Linked DNA regions of Homo sapiens: region 2 is linked to region 1. Evidence: fine-mapped expression QTL. A gene starts in region 1. The other region holds a variant in brackets. All regions are shown on one strand. Distances are from middle to middle.

Evidence for each region. PIP is the estimated chance that this variant, and not a neighbour inherited with it, causes the effect.
Region 2: its variant is fine-mapped to the expression of FNDC3A in whole blood (INTERVAL, PIP above 0.99).

Annotation. Positions count from the first base shown.
Region 1 is chr13:48,971,262-48,979,600 of GRCh38, forward strand. It overlaps FNDC3A (fibronectin type III domain containing 3A), which reads left to right and starts at 4,651. Exons shown (of 26, transcript NM_001079673.2): 1 at 4,651-4,916. RefSeq lists enhancers at 3,856-3,915, 4,186-4,805, 4,616-4,915, 4,806-5,425, 5,586-5,685 and silencers at 4,366-4,635, 4,966-5,445.
Region 2 is chr13:48,892,387-48,900,725 of GRCh38, forward strand. LOC107984559 (a long non-coding RNA gene) reads left to right here. Exons shown (of 3, transcript XR_001749987.2): 3 at 4,658-5,049. Among named protein-coding and RNA genes, the nearest start is that of FNDC3A, 79 kb to the right of the region's middle. The variant CTTTAT/C (reference allele first, on the strand shown) is at 5,122.

The DNA.
Region 1 (8,339 bases):
TGTGTCTTGTTTCCTTTGCTTTTAGGGAAGGAGCTGTTCCATCCATAGGAAAGCACAGAGTGGGATGGAAACGGGAACAGGATCAGAGCAAGTGTGCACCCTGGCCAAGTTCCTTTCCAAGAATCCTTGGAAATGTGGAGGAAGGTTCTGGATTTTCCCAACCTCACCAAATCACAATTAGCCAGGACATCCTAATCATGTAGCTCACATTTATTTATTGAGCATCAAGCATATACCAGGCATCTTCATACATTATGAAATTTAATCCTGCAAAGTAGGTATTTTATCCTTAGTTTATAGTTGAGGAACTGAAGCCAGAAAGGTTGGATAACAAGCCTAAGATCGATCAATCAATCAGTTAGTAATAGAGCTGCGACTGAAGCCCAGATCTACCTGACTCCAAAGCCTGTCTTTCCTGCTCCACATTATACTACACCCCTTCTCAGAGATTAAAAAAAAAAAAGCTCTGGCTGCTTTAACTGGTGTACCTCCAGGTCAACCACTTCCATCTCCTTCTCCTCTTTCAGATTTGCACCTGTTCCCTAACCAAAGAGAGGAACAACAGCAATAGTGTTCTGTCGGGATCTGTTCAGAGTTAAGGCCACCAATATTGTTCAGAGAATTCAGTCAGCACACCCCTCCCACCTCAATCTGCTGTCCCATCTCTCCTCTTCATCACCAAACTTTTTTTTCCAAACTTTCTAAATAGTCTCCACTTGCTGTTTGACTTCTTCATCTTCGTCTTTCTCTTTAACCCACTGTACTTTGTCAAGAACTATGAAAGGTCTGAGATTTCATCCTCCTTGCAAGCTAATCACTTAACCTGCTATAGTTTCATGGAAGCTGGCAGAAGACGTGGGGCTTTGCAGTCAAAGGGCTGTATTACTCATGGCACAGCAAGCAGCGCCAGTGTCATGTTCAGTCAGTTCCCTTGCCCCCAGGTCTTACCTGGAGCTACATGGTGTGGTTCAGGTGAGTGATGCACCTGCAGTGGGTTTGCCTCACAGCTGAGAAACTCTATCTAAGCTTAGGAAATCCCCAATCTTTTTATAATAGGCTGCAAGAAAACCTGCTTGACCTTTACCTCCAAAGACATTATCTTCACTATATTGGATGGTAAACAAATGTGCCCCTGCTCTTGGCGGGGAGGGGGAGCAGGGCAGGGGACACTATGTATATTTTCCAAGGCAGTTTGACCAAAAAAAAAAAAAAATCCTTGAAAATATAGTCTAAAACAAAAGCTGTTAGTGCCTCTGCTCACAAGACATGCAGAAATACTAGAGTCCCACAGAGAATTGTCTTCCAGCACATTTCTGCATTTCTTCCCACTAGTCATACAGAAGATTGCTCTCTTGAAAATGATCAGTGATCTAATTTCCCGATCTAACAACCTTCTAGAATCCCAGAAATAAACTCATAGGACAATAATCATTCAAGAAATATTTATTGGGTAGCTTCTATGTGCCAGGCACTGTGCAGGCCCAAATAGACATGGTCTTTATCCTAATGTGGGGAGCAACAGACATTAACCTAGTAGTTACACATACCAAAATGTAGTTACAAGCTGTGGTAAGTCATAAGAGGGGAGGGTATATGGTGGTAAGAGAGCTGACATAACAAGGTATCTTGAATGTATCTGGGAGGTCAGAAATGTTTTTCCCAAGGATGTCGCTTTCAAGCTGAGACCTGAAGGATGAGTAAGAGATAGGATAACTAAAGGAGAGAATGGCATGTACATAGAGCCTTTGGTTGTTGGGATCATAGCATTTTTGAGAAACTAAAAGAAGACCAGGAAGTCTGCCCAGGAAACAAGGTGAAAATGGTGTGAGATGAGGCTGGAAAAGGCAGGTAAGGCCAGACCTCGTATGGTCTTTTAGGCTGCCTTAAGAATTCTAGACTTATCCTAAAGCAATGAGAAACTGTTTAAGGAGATTTTTGGAGTAGTGACATAGTCTCATTTGCTTTCTTAGAGGATAATTTTGGCTGCAAAATGGAGACTGAATGGAGGATCCCAGATTGTATACAGTGAGATCGAATTAGATTGGTGGTGATTGGAAAGAAGTAGACCAATTAGATTTTAGAAATAAAATTGCCAGGAGTTAGTGCTGCAACAAATATGGAGAATGGAAGAATGGAGGTGAGGGAGACATCAGCGGTTACTGACTACTAGATATTTGATTTGAATAACTAGAGAGATGGGGGATAAGGAAAACAAGTGTTCATGAACTCAGTTGGACTAAACTTTGCAACTTTGAGATATTAAGTGGCCATGTCAGTGAAGCTTGGAATTTAGAGGTAGGGTCAAACTTTGACTAGTGGATCAGATTTGGAATTTAGAGGAAAGGTCTGGGCTGGAGGCATATATGTGGAGATCACTGGCATATAGATGATAACTAAAGCCATTGGCGTGGGTGATGCTGCTTAGGCCAAGAGATTACAATGAAAACAGAAAAGAATCTAAAACTGAATTTTAAGGTACTGTTATATTTAATAGTTAGGGAGACCAGCAGGAATATGCAAAGGAATCAGAGAAGCAGTGCCTAGGAAACTAAGGAGGAAAACCAAGAAAATGCAGTGTCAAAGGAAGAAGAAATGTTTAAGAAAGAATAGTGGTCAAAGTGTTGAGTATTGTTGAGAGGCCAAGAAAGATGAGGATTGAAAATGGCTCCCATTTTATTGATAAAAAAAAAGTGAAGCATTGAGAAGAGAACTTGTTCAAAGCCAACATAATTTCTTGACCCTCTCTCTGTTCCCAGAGAACTCATACTGGTGCACATGCTAGGGTCATTTATGTGTGGGTTTTCTTCTCTCCAAAGGCCATAAATTCCTTGGTCTTCACTTTACTTCACCTTACTGCATTGCATATTATTGACTACAATCTCTAGGTCTTCAATAACATTCTTAAATTATGTGTTAATCTCCTTCAAAAACAGCTGATCTTCTTTACTCTGCCTTTACATGTAGGCATGTCCCAAACATATTTTTTTAAATATAGTTTTTAAAAGTGCCATGTCTTGGCCTCTCCCTGGACAAAGGAATCAGAATCTTGAGGGGGTAGATTGCAGGATTCTGTATTTTCAAAAAGCTCCTGAGTAGGAAGCAGAGTAGGAAAGTATTAGCTTAGCGGTAAGTTTGGAAACCACTATCTTAGTCTCAGACCAAGCATAGTTGGGCAGTAAGATGGGGAAGCCACCCCATTCGCCCACACTCTGATAAAATCCTCATACTTTGAAACAATATACAGTTATACTTCAATTATTCCAAGATCAACTTGCCAGCTGTCTCGAAGAGGGCCAAATCCAAAAGTTAAGAAAAGGAAACATCTCTCACAGGGAAAGAACTTCTGATAGTGAAGAGCAATGAAAATATCTCAAGATACCACTGCCCTATTTACAACCAGAAGAAAAGAAACCTCTCATTAGCTGGCTGTGGACATAAACATCCCATCAATCTTCACCTGGAGCCGCAGAGAAAACCAGCCGAGAAAGGAGAGAAGAATGAAAAATAAACAGTAAAGCAGAAAGAATAAGAGGAAGGATCAGAGTGGATAGAGGCAGATGAGGAGATGAAAAGCAGTGAAGGATTTTAGAAGAGGTGATGAGAACATTCCAAAGAGGGAAAAAAAGAGAGCACCAAAGTAGGGATTCTATACACCGCAGCAATCCTCTGGGACTTAAACGTATGGCCAAGATATCGGTTTGAGAGTCAGTTATCAACAAAGGATTTAATTAGCCATTGTATTCTTTAAGAATATAGAGAATAATCACATTTTAAAGAGATTTCTGTAAAACAGTTTTAAAAATACAGCTATTTTAAAAGATCGCACAATTAATACACTGAAATAAAGCCCAGACATGCAACTTGTTACATCCATCACCATTTTTGAAAGGACAGTTCCTGAGGCTGGACTCACCGGCCCAAGTACTACCCCCTCCCCAGGTCTCCGGCGGCAACTGTAAGTCAAAAGCCCTCAGGCATTATTGCAGCGTCCCACATTGTTTGAGGTTCCAGGAAGTCGCTGCTACGCTCACTTGTAAGTCTTCGTGCTGTTGTAAAAATTGAGGTCGTGGTTTTCCACGCGATTTGGCTGGCGAAGAGACCACGAAGCCACCCCCCACGTTTTCAACTGAGTAAATATCTAAATATTTTTGCTTGCTATCCAGATCCTGGGTTCGAAGTCTTTGGGATTAGAAACTTCCAAGCCCATTTCAGAGGCTTCCTAGTCCTTGGGAGGAGTGTCTTTTAAAGCACCTGCCAGCCTTAAGTTCGCGTGCTTTCGGAAAGGGGCCGACAGGGTGCGTCTCAGGGGAGCCTTTTGAAATGTGGATTGAGAATTGTGTGAGTGTCTCTAGGAACCTCCATTAACTCCACTTTTCCTGAGTGTAGCTCCGAGCCTGGCCACAGCGGATGCTACCACAAGCCAGGCGCAGCCGGGCCTCGGGAGAAAGCCGGAAGCCCGAGAGGGTGTGGGCGCTCCGGGAGCCAAACGCGGCCGCTCAGCCGCCACGCGCCGGTGGCCCCGCGGGGACTCGCGTTCCGGTGAGAGAGCCCCGGCGCGGCGGGCTCGAGGCGGGGGTTCGGGGTCCCGGCCGCGGGCTCCGTCGGCGGGGCCCGCGCAGCCGCACTCGGCGCGCCGACTTCGGGCTCCTCCTCCCGGCTCCGTAGTAAGCATGGCGGCGGCGGCGTTCGTGGTCCCTCGGGTGAAACAGAAAGCGGGAGCTACGCGGAGAGGGAGCGAAGAGCGGGGCTGAGGCGGCGGCGTCACTGCCAGGAAACAACCCCAACAGTCAGCGCGCCGGCGGCCGCGGCGGCCCTGAGAGCTGACTCTGCAGCTGAGGTAGAGAGACAACGATCAGGAACCCTAAGAAGAGGCGCCAGAGGAGCCGCCTTCTGCCTCAGAACGGCGTGACTCGGAGGTGAGAGCGCGGGCACTCCCTCCGCGAAAGGCGGGGGACACCGAGCCGTCCCAACCCCGTCCCGCCCCGGAGGAGGCGCCGCGGAAACCGTTAGGCTGGGACTGAGGGCCGGGGCACTCTCCAGGGCTCGGCCCCGTCGAGGGGCGCGGACCACCCCCTTCTGTGGGCGCGCTGTGGGCAGAGGTGCAGAGGGGCAGTGGGGCCGGGGACAGGACCGGTCTACTAGTCGGGCACCTGCCGGGGCCGAGCCTAGCCAGGACACGCTTGCGGGGGCGCGGCCGGGGGCGCCATCCAGCCCAAGAGGAGGCGGCATCTAGCCCGAGGGAGGTGGCGCTGGTGCGCGGGCGGCCCTTCTCTCTGTCCCCCGCCTCCTCCCCGCGGCGAGCCGCGTAGCTCCGGAGGGCTCGGGGGCGGGGGCGGGGGCGGGGGCTGGGGCGGAATCCTCCTGAGAGGATCGCCCAGCACCCGCGGCGCCTTCGGCTTTGGCCGCCCGGCAGCCGCCGAACTTGAACGCTTTTCTGAAGAGAGTTTTCCCCGCTCATCTTGGGGTTAAAACCTCGAAAACCCGCCCTCTGTTTGATCCTGCGTGGCTGCTTCCAGTACCTGGCAGTTCCTCTCCCCGGGCGAGTTAACCACCTGTTCAGTCGGGAGGTGGACTCGAGGCTGCAGTCCTCGCCCGGTTTTAACAACCTGGATCTTCGAACTTTTGACACGGCTTTGGAAACGACGTCATGTGTTAGGTAAAGGAAAATGAACAGATAATTTCGCTGTCAGATTGCGAGCAGAAGAGGGACTGTTTTAATGGATGTGGTCGTTAATTGTTCTTTTATTCAACTGTTAGCGTTACAAGCCTTGGGATATTTTAGAGGGTGGAATGCGATGATTTGCTGGGGGTGCTAGAGATTGTGAATTCGAGATTTTCTTTTGTGAGATTTTACGTAAGTTCCTTTGGACACCTTTGTGTCTGACCATCTATTAAATAAGAGTCGCAGGCTGATGAGATTTTTTTTTTCTTTTTGCGGTATAATCATTATGTGTTCACTATGGGTTTTTAAAACCGAACAACGTAATTATTTTGCTTCTTACTGTGGTCTGTGTTTTTTAGTTCTTGAAACCAAAGTGTGTATGCTTCTGTATTGTAGGAATGAAATAACAGTTGAACTCTTACTATAATATTTTATCACCATGCTGTTACCAGCTCCAGTACTAAACATACGCCACTCAGGAGTTTGAGCCATATGTTAGGCAGAAACGAATTGAGTTTTGTGGTTCTGATCTTATGTTTGGATAAATATTTAGTTTTTGCGTATTTACTAACTCTTGTCATCTTGTGTCACCCACAAATGTTCAAGTGAGTTGAATCCCCTGTCTTTTGGATATTTTCTTGGTTGAATTAATTTTTCTTAAGTAATGAGATGAAGTACTCACTGAGACAGATGGTGGCCCAACAGAAAACAGTGATGAAGGATTTTTACCACATCTTTTATGAAATATAACCTGAAATGTTGCTTTTAGCTTTGTAGCCTACTAATCTTGCTTTCTAATCACACCAGTTAGTGGGAAGAAGGGATGATGACAGGAGAAACATCTTGTTAAAATTTTAATATTAAATCTTATATTTAAATTTTTTAGCACTACTACATTAAATTTTACTATATTGTCTTGTTTCATTTCATAGATCATCTGTTAGTTTTCTATGTGTAGGTTAACTGGAAAATTTTTTATCCCAGGCTGGCTACCGTTAGCCACCTGTATGCTTCTGAATTAACTCCCTCTTTTTCCCTTTTGTCTGAATCCTCCAAATCATTGAATGCTCCGGAAAAATAAAATCCTGGTTAACACTGTCAAGCATAGTTATAAGGGTAATTAATTTATCCCAAATTAATAATAAGCATTAAAAAAAACATTCTAGGATTATCTTCTTTTGGTGACGTCTGTGTCTTCACTTCCTCTATCTGTGTGAGTAATTGAGACCTGATTTATTTTAACACACATGTAATGATTACTCTTTACTAGTCACATTTCTACAATATAATAGTAAGCATATTTTATTACTAATTTAAAAATTTCTCCCTCTTCCCTGACCAGCCAGACATAGCTAAGGGCTGAGACATCCTTAACCCCCCGAAAAAAAGAGGGAATGCATGATTCATATTCTCATTGTCTTTTGTAGTTTTAGGCAAAGAGCATTTAATTTATACTTTATCAATTTTTAGTAATATTTGCGCTGTTTTAAAACATTTGCATTTTTTAAGATGTTCATGACATCCAAGGCTTGTGTATTTTATAATCTGCCAGTATTTTTAAAATACAATTTGATGAAGTAACCAAAAACGTTTTTTTTTTGAAACATTGTTGGTGCATTTTTGAATGAAAATGAATCTAGATCGTGTCTTTGAGAATGGTGTAGGGATATGCACATGATTTCCAATTTTATTAGCCAGATAACTAAGTGATTAGTGTTTCTGGTTTTTTTTTGTTTGCTTTTGTTTTTTTTGTTTTGTTTTTAGCATTGCCTAGCGGACTTCAAATAAACTCACAATATTGTAATTCCGAAGGTTTAGAATATGGTGCATATTTATTCCATTGAGCCTTTTACTGCTTCAGTTTATCACATTGCAAAACAAGAAATATGGCTCCCATATGTGTGAATGTCAAAAACTACTTGTTAAAACGAAATTAGTGGCCATTAATGTTGAAAGGCAAATTTTGTACTTTTACATGTATTGTGAGCTTTTATAATTTTCTTAATATTTTGGTCTTATTTCAGATAATTATTCAGTGGTCTCTTTTTATATCTTTATTCTTACCTTTCTGTCTTCCCACTGTTGTGGTTTTGCTTGTCTTTAATATATACTTTCAAGTTTTCTGTGTAACCTGTGGTCTTCCATCAAGTTCCTTTGTGGGTGTCATCTTTCAATGTTTCCAATCACTTATCACCCATTACCAGTCCTTGGGCTATTTTTTCCTCCAAGATTGAGAACTACACCTGGGAGATGTCATGTGCTTGCAGGGTGATGCAATGTTATTAAAGTGGGGATACAAACATAGTGTGATGTCTTCCTTCCTTCAAGTAGTTTACAAATTAGTTGGGGGTACTAGACTAATAGTATCATTAGCAAAAATTATAATATGGTATTATTAAGTTGTGTGACACCAACTGGAATTTAAAGGGAAGTGAAGCCAGTGAGAGCTAGAACAATCCTGGAAGGCATTTGGAGGGAGTCAGAGGAAACTTAGAAATGATTTAGATAACAAAAGGAAAGGCATTCCAAAAGAGATTCACAGGCAGAGTTGGAAGTAGTAGTAGAATAAGTAGTCCAAGAGCATCCAAGGACAGAAATTGGGACGAAGAAAGAAAGAAAGTTAGGTCGAGATGTTAGCTTAAGCACCAGGGCATCAGAAGAGGAAAATAGGCAGAGC
Region 2 (8,339 bases), 79 kb before region 1:
GTCAGACCTGTCTATGAGAAACTTTCTATTAGATCACCAGTCAATAGGATACCAGCATCTGCTGATCCTGACTGAAAGACATGAGTAATAACAGACAACTTTAGAAAATACATTTTTCTTCCATAGTTAGCAATGCATGACTCACTAGAACTCTCCAGACACTATACTGCATGAATGACTCAAAATTCTACCAAGGACAGAGCACAATCAGTTCTCTCTTCCTGTGCCAGGATTTCTCGTTCCAATTATACTGATTCGTTAGCTTACTTCAAAGACAGAAAATCTTGGTCCATTATCTTTCCTCTTTCAAAAACAGTCATGTATATTTTAATATAAAGACAATTATTAGGGTGCTACAGGAAAACAGAGACTAAACATAATAGCGAATGCTGAAAGCAATCTTCAATTGGTTCAACTCTCATCATTTGGGAGAATGGGTTGGGCAATGACCATGGTTAAGTTTCTTCTGGAAGATTGACCAATGAGAAGAGGTTGTTGCAATACAAGAAATATCGTATTGTGTCACACCAAGAGCCTGCTCATCCAAATCTTCAGTAGCTGATAGTGGTATCAAGGATATTTTGAGAAATATTTCAGTAGTTACTCTCCACGACAGAGGCCTTGTTTCTTTCAAATAACTGTTTTCCTCAATAATTGCAAAAGCCTCCCAGTGAAAGTGCACACCTCTAGGCTCTTTCCTTTTCATTCTATTCTTGGCATTCCATCTCCAGTTTAATATTATTGAAGGATAATTCTGATAATGACATCAACGTAGCATAGTGACTAAGAGAATAGGTCTTGGAATTAGGCCACCCGGCCACCAATTAATTTTTTTTTCTTTCTTTCTTTTTTTTTTTTTTTTTTTTTTTGAGATGGAGTCTCTCTCTGTTGCCCAGGCTAGAGTGCAGTGGTGCAATCTTGGCTCACTGCAACCTCCGCCTCCCCAGGTTCAAGCGATTCTCCTGCCTCAGCTTCCCAAGTAGCTGGGACTACAGGCACCTGCCCCCACACCTGGCTGATTTTTGTAGTTTTAGTAGAGATGGAGTTTCACCATGTTGGCCAGGCTGGTCTCAAACTCCTGACCTCAGGTGATCCATCTGCCTCAGCCTCCCAAAATGCTGGGATTACAGGAGTGAGCCACCACACTTGGTCATCACCAATTATGTTTTTAACCTCTTCATGCCTCAGTTTTCTTATCTGTGACATGGAGTTTGTGAGATGCTTGAATAACTTTTAACTTTGTGTTAAAAATGAGTGTGTAAGCAAACAGAGCATTCATGGTTAAGAGAATAGGTTCTAGAATGACATTTGGGGTTAAATATGTTGGTTCTGCCATTTAACTGTCTGCAAGGCTGAACCAGTTACCTTATTCTGTATAGCAAATCACCCCCAAAACTTTCTGGCTTATGACAGCAATAATCATTTTTTTTGTCTTCCACAGTTTCTGTAGGTCAGATTTGGGGAGCAGCTTGGCTGGGTGGTCTTGGACACAAGGTTTCTCATGAGGTTGCAGTCAGATATTGGCTAGGGCTACAGTCATCTGAAAATTAGACTGGGGTTGGAAGATCTACATTTAAGGCAGCTTACTCACATGACAAGTTGGTGGAGGTTATGGGCAGGGAGATTAATTTCCTTTCACATGGACCTCTCCACTGGTTGCTTGAATGTTCTGATGACATGGCAACTGGCTTACCCCACAGTGACCCAGGAAAGCAAAGCAGCTCCAATGCCTTTATGGCTTCACCTTGCAATTTATATCCCATCAACTCTGCCATGTTCTACTGGTCACACTGTCCACCCCAGATTTAATGTGAAAGGGGACTACTCAAGGCACTGACACCAGAATGTGAAAATCACTGGCAGCTATCTTGGAAAATGACTACCACAAAGATATTGAGCGAGCTACTTTTAGCTCTTTAAACCTTAGTCTCCTTATTCGCGAAATACAGACAATAACAATATACTTATTTCATAGGGGTGTTATGAGAATTGACAAGATGATACATGTAAAGTACTTGGTACCTACTAATTACTCAAAAAAATTACTTATTATTATTATTATAATCCAGTAATAATCAAACTATTCCAGGGGCTGCAATGAGGAAAAGGGTTTTACTTCCGGGGAGTAGATAAAACTGTAAATCTTCCCCGTCTTCTGCCTCATTCTTATTTCTTTCAGTTGACTTCATTTTGTCTCATATGTATTAGGCTTCCTCATAAGCTTTTCATTTGAAGAAAGGATTATTCAGCTTTTTAAAAAAGAAAACTACATTTAAAAAATAAAAGTGTTATTGATCATTATTTATTTCAAGCAGTAAGAATTTTAGTAAAGATAAATGTGTGAATGTATCTTTATAATTTCCATATAGATAGCATTACCTAGCTAATTAGTGATATAGTATGGCTGGAAAGCAGAGAATATCAGATTGTATAAAAGACCACCTAGTCCAGTGTTAAAACCCTTAAGGCTATTAACCCATTTCCACAGCAGTCAGATGGAAGACCTGACATTTGAGGTTGTTGGGTGAATGTATTAGGTAAACTCTTGCACATTCCAAAAGTTGATTTATTCACCATGGTATGTACTCAAGCACTTACTTTCTATGTGCCCTTGTCTAACTGCTGGCTATATATTAGTGAACAAGGTGAATAAACTTCCAGTTTCCATTGAGCTCTCATTTTGTGAAGGAAAAGACAAGGAATAAACAAATAAATGAACACTGTAATTTCAGGCAGTGATAAATGCTATAATAATGAAAAGCAATGATGTGGTAAAGTGACCAAGCAGTTGGAAGACTGGTTTAGCTAGGATGGTCAAGGCAGTGTTCTACAAGAAGATGACATTTGAGCTGAATTTTGAACAATGACAAGGAATCAGCCATATCAGCAATTGACAGAGGAATTCCTAGATATGTACTAACATGGCACCTTGGGAAGCCTGAGCCATCAGGTGACCTCATTCCAATGGAAATCTTACTATTTACTAAAGTTACTGAAATTTGGTTTGAAAGATATTCTGAATAGACTTCTTTCCCTTTGATGATGCATCTTCATAGAGACATTTGGCTAAAGTTGCTGATTAGAGACAATATTTCTGACAAAAAACAATGGAATTGCTGATAGATGGTGTGACTGAGACCAATGCCTCCAAGTTAAAAACCAGTTCAATCTGGGCCACTTTGAAAATATCCTAGAATATCTGAAGGATCAACTTAAGCCTATTTTTCATGGGCTTAAGTTGAAAACAGAAGTCAATACATAGAGGACCCAAGTATAGAACAGATAACATATGCATTCTTGTCTAGTTTCCCTAAGATTTTTCAACCTTCTTTTCACCACCAACCTATACACTTAGAAAGGAGGGGAAGGGGTGTCAAGAAAGAGAAATAAATGAAACATAAAAGACTTAAGGAGGAAAGGAGTAACTACAAAGTAAAATCAAATCTGGAAGGCTGAGGCGGGCAGATTGCTTGAGCCCAAGAGTTAGAAACAAGCTTGGGCAACATAGGGAAAGCCCATCTGTACAAAAAGTACAAAAAATTAGCCAGGTATGGTAGCATGCATCTGGAGACACAGCTATTGGGGAGGCTGAGGTGGGAGGACCCCTTGAGCCTGGGAAGTAGATGTTGTAGTGAGCTGTGATGGTGCCACTGAACTCCACCTTGGGCAACAGAGTGAGACTCCGTCTCAATTAAAAAAAAAAATCAAATCACATTAGAGTTGGAAGAGACCTTAGAGATGGTCCTGTCCGACCCCCTCAGGTTATACATGCACAAACCAAGGCACAAAGAAATTAGGCAACTTCTCAAAGGTACACAGTCAATAGCTAAGTGGCACCCTCACACACCAATGGGAAGAAGAGGTGATAGGGGTGTTCCCTTACTTCCCGTACAGCCTCGGCTTCATATAAGGTGAACGAGGGCCTCTCCATCCTGAATTCTGGGAATGCTCCACCCCTACTTCCCACTCTCAGCAGGTAAAATGCCCTGATCTGTAGAAGAATTGAGTTTGAGTTGCCTGTGAAACATCTACATAGAGATTGCCCAGGAAGCTATTGGACATAAGGGTAAATAACTTAGGAGCAAGATCTCAGCAAAGATGTGGATTCATGAGTCATCAGTGTACAGCTGAAGATAGGTCCAATTACAATACTTCCTGTTTTTACATTATGAATCTGAGACCCAGAAATGTGATGTAACTTGACTGGGGCCATATTAGTAGGTACAGAGCAGGGATTTAGAACCTAGTCTTCCTGACTCCCATGTCTGTGCCCCTTCCAAGAGGGCTTGCTGATATGACTATGTGCTCTGATGAGGAGTGGTAGGAAGGTGTTACAGCAGAGCAATGCTCTTTTAATTTCAATTGCATATTTCTATTTCTAATATATAGCTAAACATAAATATGTCTAATGTGGGTGGCTATACACATTTTGCAGCTTATGCAGCCAACAAATTGCCTACTGACAGGCAACCAGCCACTCACCCTTGTCCTTTGGATATGATTCCAACAAGAAACTCTGTAAAGCTGAGAGAAATCTCATAATGCCTTCCAGATAGTCCCTTCTGGGTCCTGTAATCTAACCAAAAGAGTGCAAGATGCCTGCCAGGTACTGTAATTGGGCCTATCTTTAGCTATCAACTGATGATTTCTTTTATAGGAACCTGGTGACTCCTGACTGTGCTACCCAAGAAGACTGTGTGGAAGGAAGCAGCAGACATCAGCATGTCCATTGCACCAAGACTGGAAGCCCAACCAGTGATTTCTGTAGCAATTTCTGAAGTTGCTGAGCAAGTGGATTGAGAGCTTTTAAGATAACTCTATACTGAGTATCAAACAAAGACCAGAAAACACCTAAGAGTGAATTACTCGTTTCAGCTGCATTATTTTATGGTTTTTAGGACACAATGGAAAACAATGGAAGCTCCACAGCTATTAATTAAAAACTTTGGGGATACCACCAAGAACTTCCCAGGTACGTAATGGTTGGTCCACTGTTCACCCTTCCTTGTTCAAAAAGGATTTCCTGAGCACCTTCTCTGATGCTTGCCTTCCCTCCCTATAGTCTTTTGGTCCTCTCTTTTCTGTGTCTTTGCTTCAAGCCTAAGGAGCTTTTCCCCAGAC[CTTTAT/C]TTTATTTTATTTTATTTTATTTTATTTTATTTTATTTTAGATGGAGTCTTGCTCTGTTGCTCAGGCTGGAATGCAGTGGCATGATCTTGGCTCACTGCAATCTCCAGCTCCTGGGTTCAAGTGAGTCTCCTGCCTCAGCCTCCTGAGTAGTTGGGATTACAGGTGCCCACCATCACACCCAGCTAATTTTTGTATTTTTAGTAAAGATAGGGTTTCACCATGTTAGCCAGGATGGTCTCGATCTCCTGACCTCATGATCCTCCCACCTCCCAAAGTGCTGGGATTATAGGCATGAGCCACAGCACCCAGCTCCCCAGACCTTTCAATATTAACCTAAGACCCAAAGGGTGAGAAATTTATCATTGTTAATACCTTTATTTCTCCTGCAACTCTCAACCACCCCGCTTTCTCTGATACTACATTCCTCTTGCTCATTTCCTGCCTTTCTGATGGCTCTTCTCTGCTCCTGTCATCAACAACCATTCTTTATGCCCTTTCTATAGGACATTTCCCAAGGCTGTTGCATTGGGTCTATTTTCTAAAATTCTTACACTTAATTCCTTGGTGATCTCATCAATTTCGCCCTTGCCCCAACCCAGCTTTAACTATTTGAGGATGACTTCCAAATCCACATCTTCAGTCCTGAACTTCAAGTCATATACATTTTCTAATGCCTGATAAATAATTCTACTGAAAAGTGCTACCAGCACCTCTAACTTAAAAACAAGACTTTTTTATTGTTGACAATAGACCATCCACGATTCTACCCATCCAGACTTGGAACCTTAGAGCCATGGCACCATTCGTTGTAATTTTAATCTCCTGAGTTCACTGTGTGGAGAATAGTATCAACTTCTTAGATGAATTCACAGCTCTACATCTATCTTTCCTACCCCTATCTTTACACTTAATCCAGTCCCAACCTCTCTTTCTTGCCTCACCACTCACATTTCTGTCTTCCCTCCTACCCTAATCCTTTCACCCTACTCTTCCACTTGTGTTGTACCTTGGATTATATTACTCTTTTCTCTTTCATTCCAATATCTTTCCCTTCCCCTTAAAGAGCATTTCTCATCTCTAACTGATAAGATAGGACCCATTCTCAGACCCATCTCAAGTAACATACGCCCAGAAATGGTAAGTTTCCTCCAGTGTGCAGCCACCTATGAGAGAAGATGTAATTTCCTGTCCAAATGCCTTCTCTCTCACTCTCCAAGTTAGTCTACCTCCTGCCCCGGAAATTCTACTTCCTTAATGCTTCTTAAATCTATCCATTTTCCTTTATCTCCTTTACAATACTTTTGTCCAAGTCACTACTGTTTTCACCTAGGCTACTAACATGGCCTTCTGGCTGACCTCCTGGGTCCTCTTTTGCCCGTCTCCAGTTTGTGCCATACAATACATGTTTTTAGAACATGACTCAAGTCGGGCCACCCCTTCAGTGCCTCCCCATAGTGCCCAAACCCTCAAGCCCTTGGTACACTGGATTCTGCCTGCATCTTCAGCCTCTTCAGCATTTTTTTTAAAGACAGCATCTTTCTCTGTCTGAAGTATGGTGGTGGGAGCATAGCTTATTGCAGCCTCAAACTTCTGGGCTCAAGTGATCATCTCACCTCAGCCTCCTGAGTAGCTAAGACTTCAGGCAATGCCATGCCCAGCTATTTTTTATTATTTTCAGTAGCGATGGGGTCTCACTATGTTGTGCAGGCTGGTTTCGAACTCCTGGTCTCAGGTGATCCTCCTGCCTAAGCCTCCCAAAGCACTGGGATTACAGACATGAGCCACTATGCCCATCCTCAGCTTTTTCTCAGTCAGCACCATGCCCATTCCTACTATGGGACACTTATACCTTCTGTTCTCTCTGCCTAAAATTCTCTCCTTCCACTCTGCTCTCCTAGCCTTCAGAACACATCTCAAATATTCCTCCTTTTGAAAAGCCTTCCATGCCTATATTCCCCCAGCTGTCAATGATACTGTGTGTGTACTTTCCCTTCATGGCAATTCTCTCAGTTAATTACAGATGATAGCTAGAGACTTACAATGGGGTTATGTCCCAATAAACCCATCCTAAATTGAAAATGCCATAAGTTGAAAATGCACTTAATACATCTAACTTATTGAACATCATAGCTTTGCCTAGCCTACCTTAAAGGTACTCAGAAAATGTATATTATGTTACAAAATATTCTAACAGAAAGCCAATTTTAAAATAAAGTGTTGAATATTTCATGTAAGTTGTTGAATACTGTACCGATACTGAAAAAGAAAATTATTATATGGGTACTCTGAGTACAGTTTCTACTGAATGGCTATCACTTTAGCACCATCCTAAAGTAAAAAAATTCATAAGTTTAATCATCATAAATTGGGGACCATCTGTATTTTACTATATATTTCTATTACTTGATTCATGTCTGTCTCCCCCACTAGATTAAATGTTCCATGAAGAAAAAGGCTGTATCTGATATGCTCATCATTTTGTCTAAGCTTTTGTTCCAAATTTCCAGCAATGTCTGGACATAGTAAAAGTTACCTAATAGATATCTGTTCATTCAGTGGGTGAATTGTTATTCTCTGCCCTCAGATTTCCTAAGTAAAAAGGAACTCCTTCCTTATACCTATTTCTTTCTGGTAATATTAACTATGGTTTTCTGAAAATAAAAGTGAGAAATTTTAACCCACTTTGTTGAACAAGTCCTATGTGTATAACAACAGCCATAATTCCAGGCTTCAGCTTCTGTTTCAAAAAAGTATTAATGGGTACAAAAACTGGCAAAGAGAGGGAAAATATAGGTGGGTGTAAATGAGGTTAAGGAAAGTACATGTTTTGACTCCACAGCAGAAAGAAGTCATTTATATGTCTTTCCTTCATCCCACCCAACACTAGGTTTCAGAAATTGGAACCAAACTAGGAACTAATAAATGTGATGTTCATAGGTCACAATGACAATGTTTATAAAGTGCTGCTTTCTCCACTCAACCAATTTATTTTAAAGCTCTTCCTGAAAATGATTTATACTAGGTTTTAAACTAAAAAGTTTCAAAATATTTTTACCTCTGACATTTCCATGAAAACCAAAGATAAAAGTGACATTGAGTTAGGGAAAATATTCAGTGCAAATACAAATGCATTGTCCTTCCTTACATCTGACTCTAATGAGCATAGGTACATGCTCAAAATTCTGCTTGTAAACATTTCTGTTCAGCTGTAT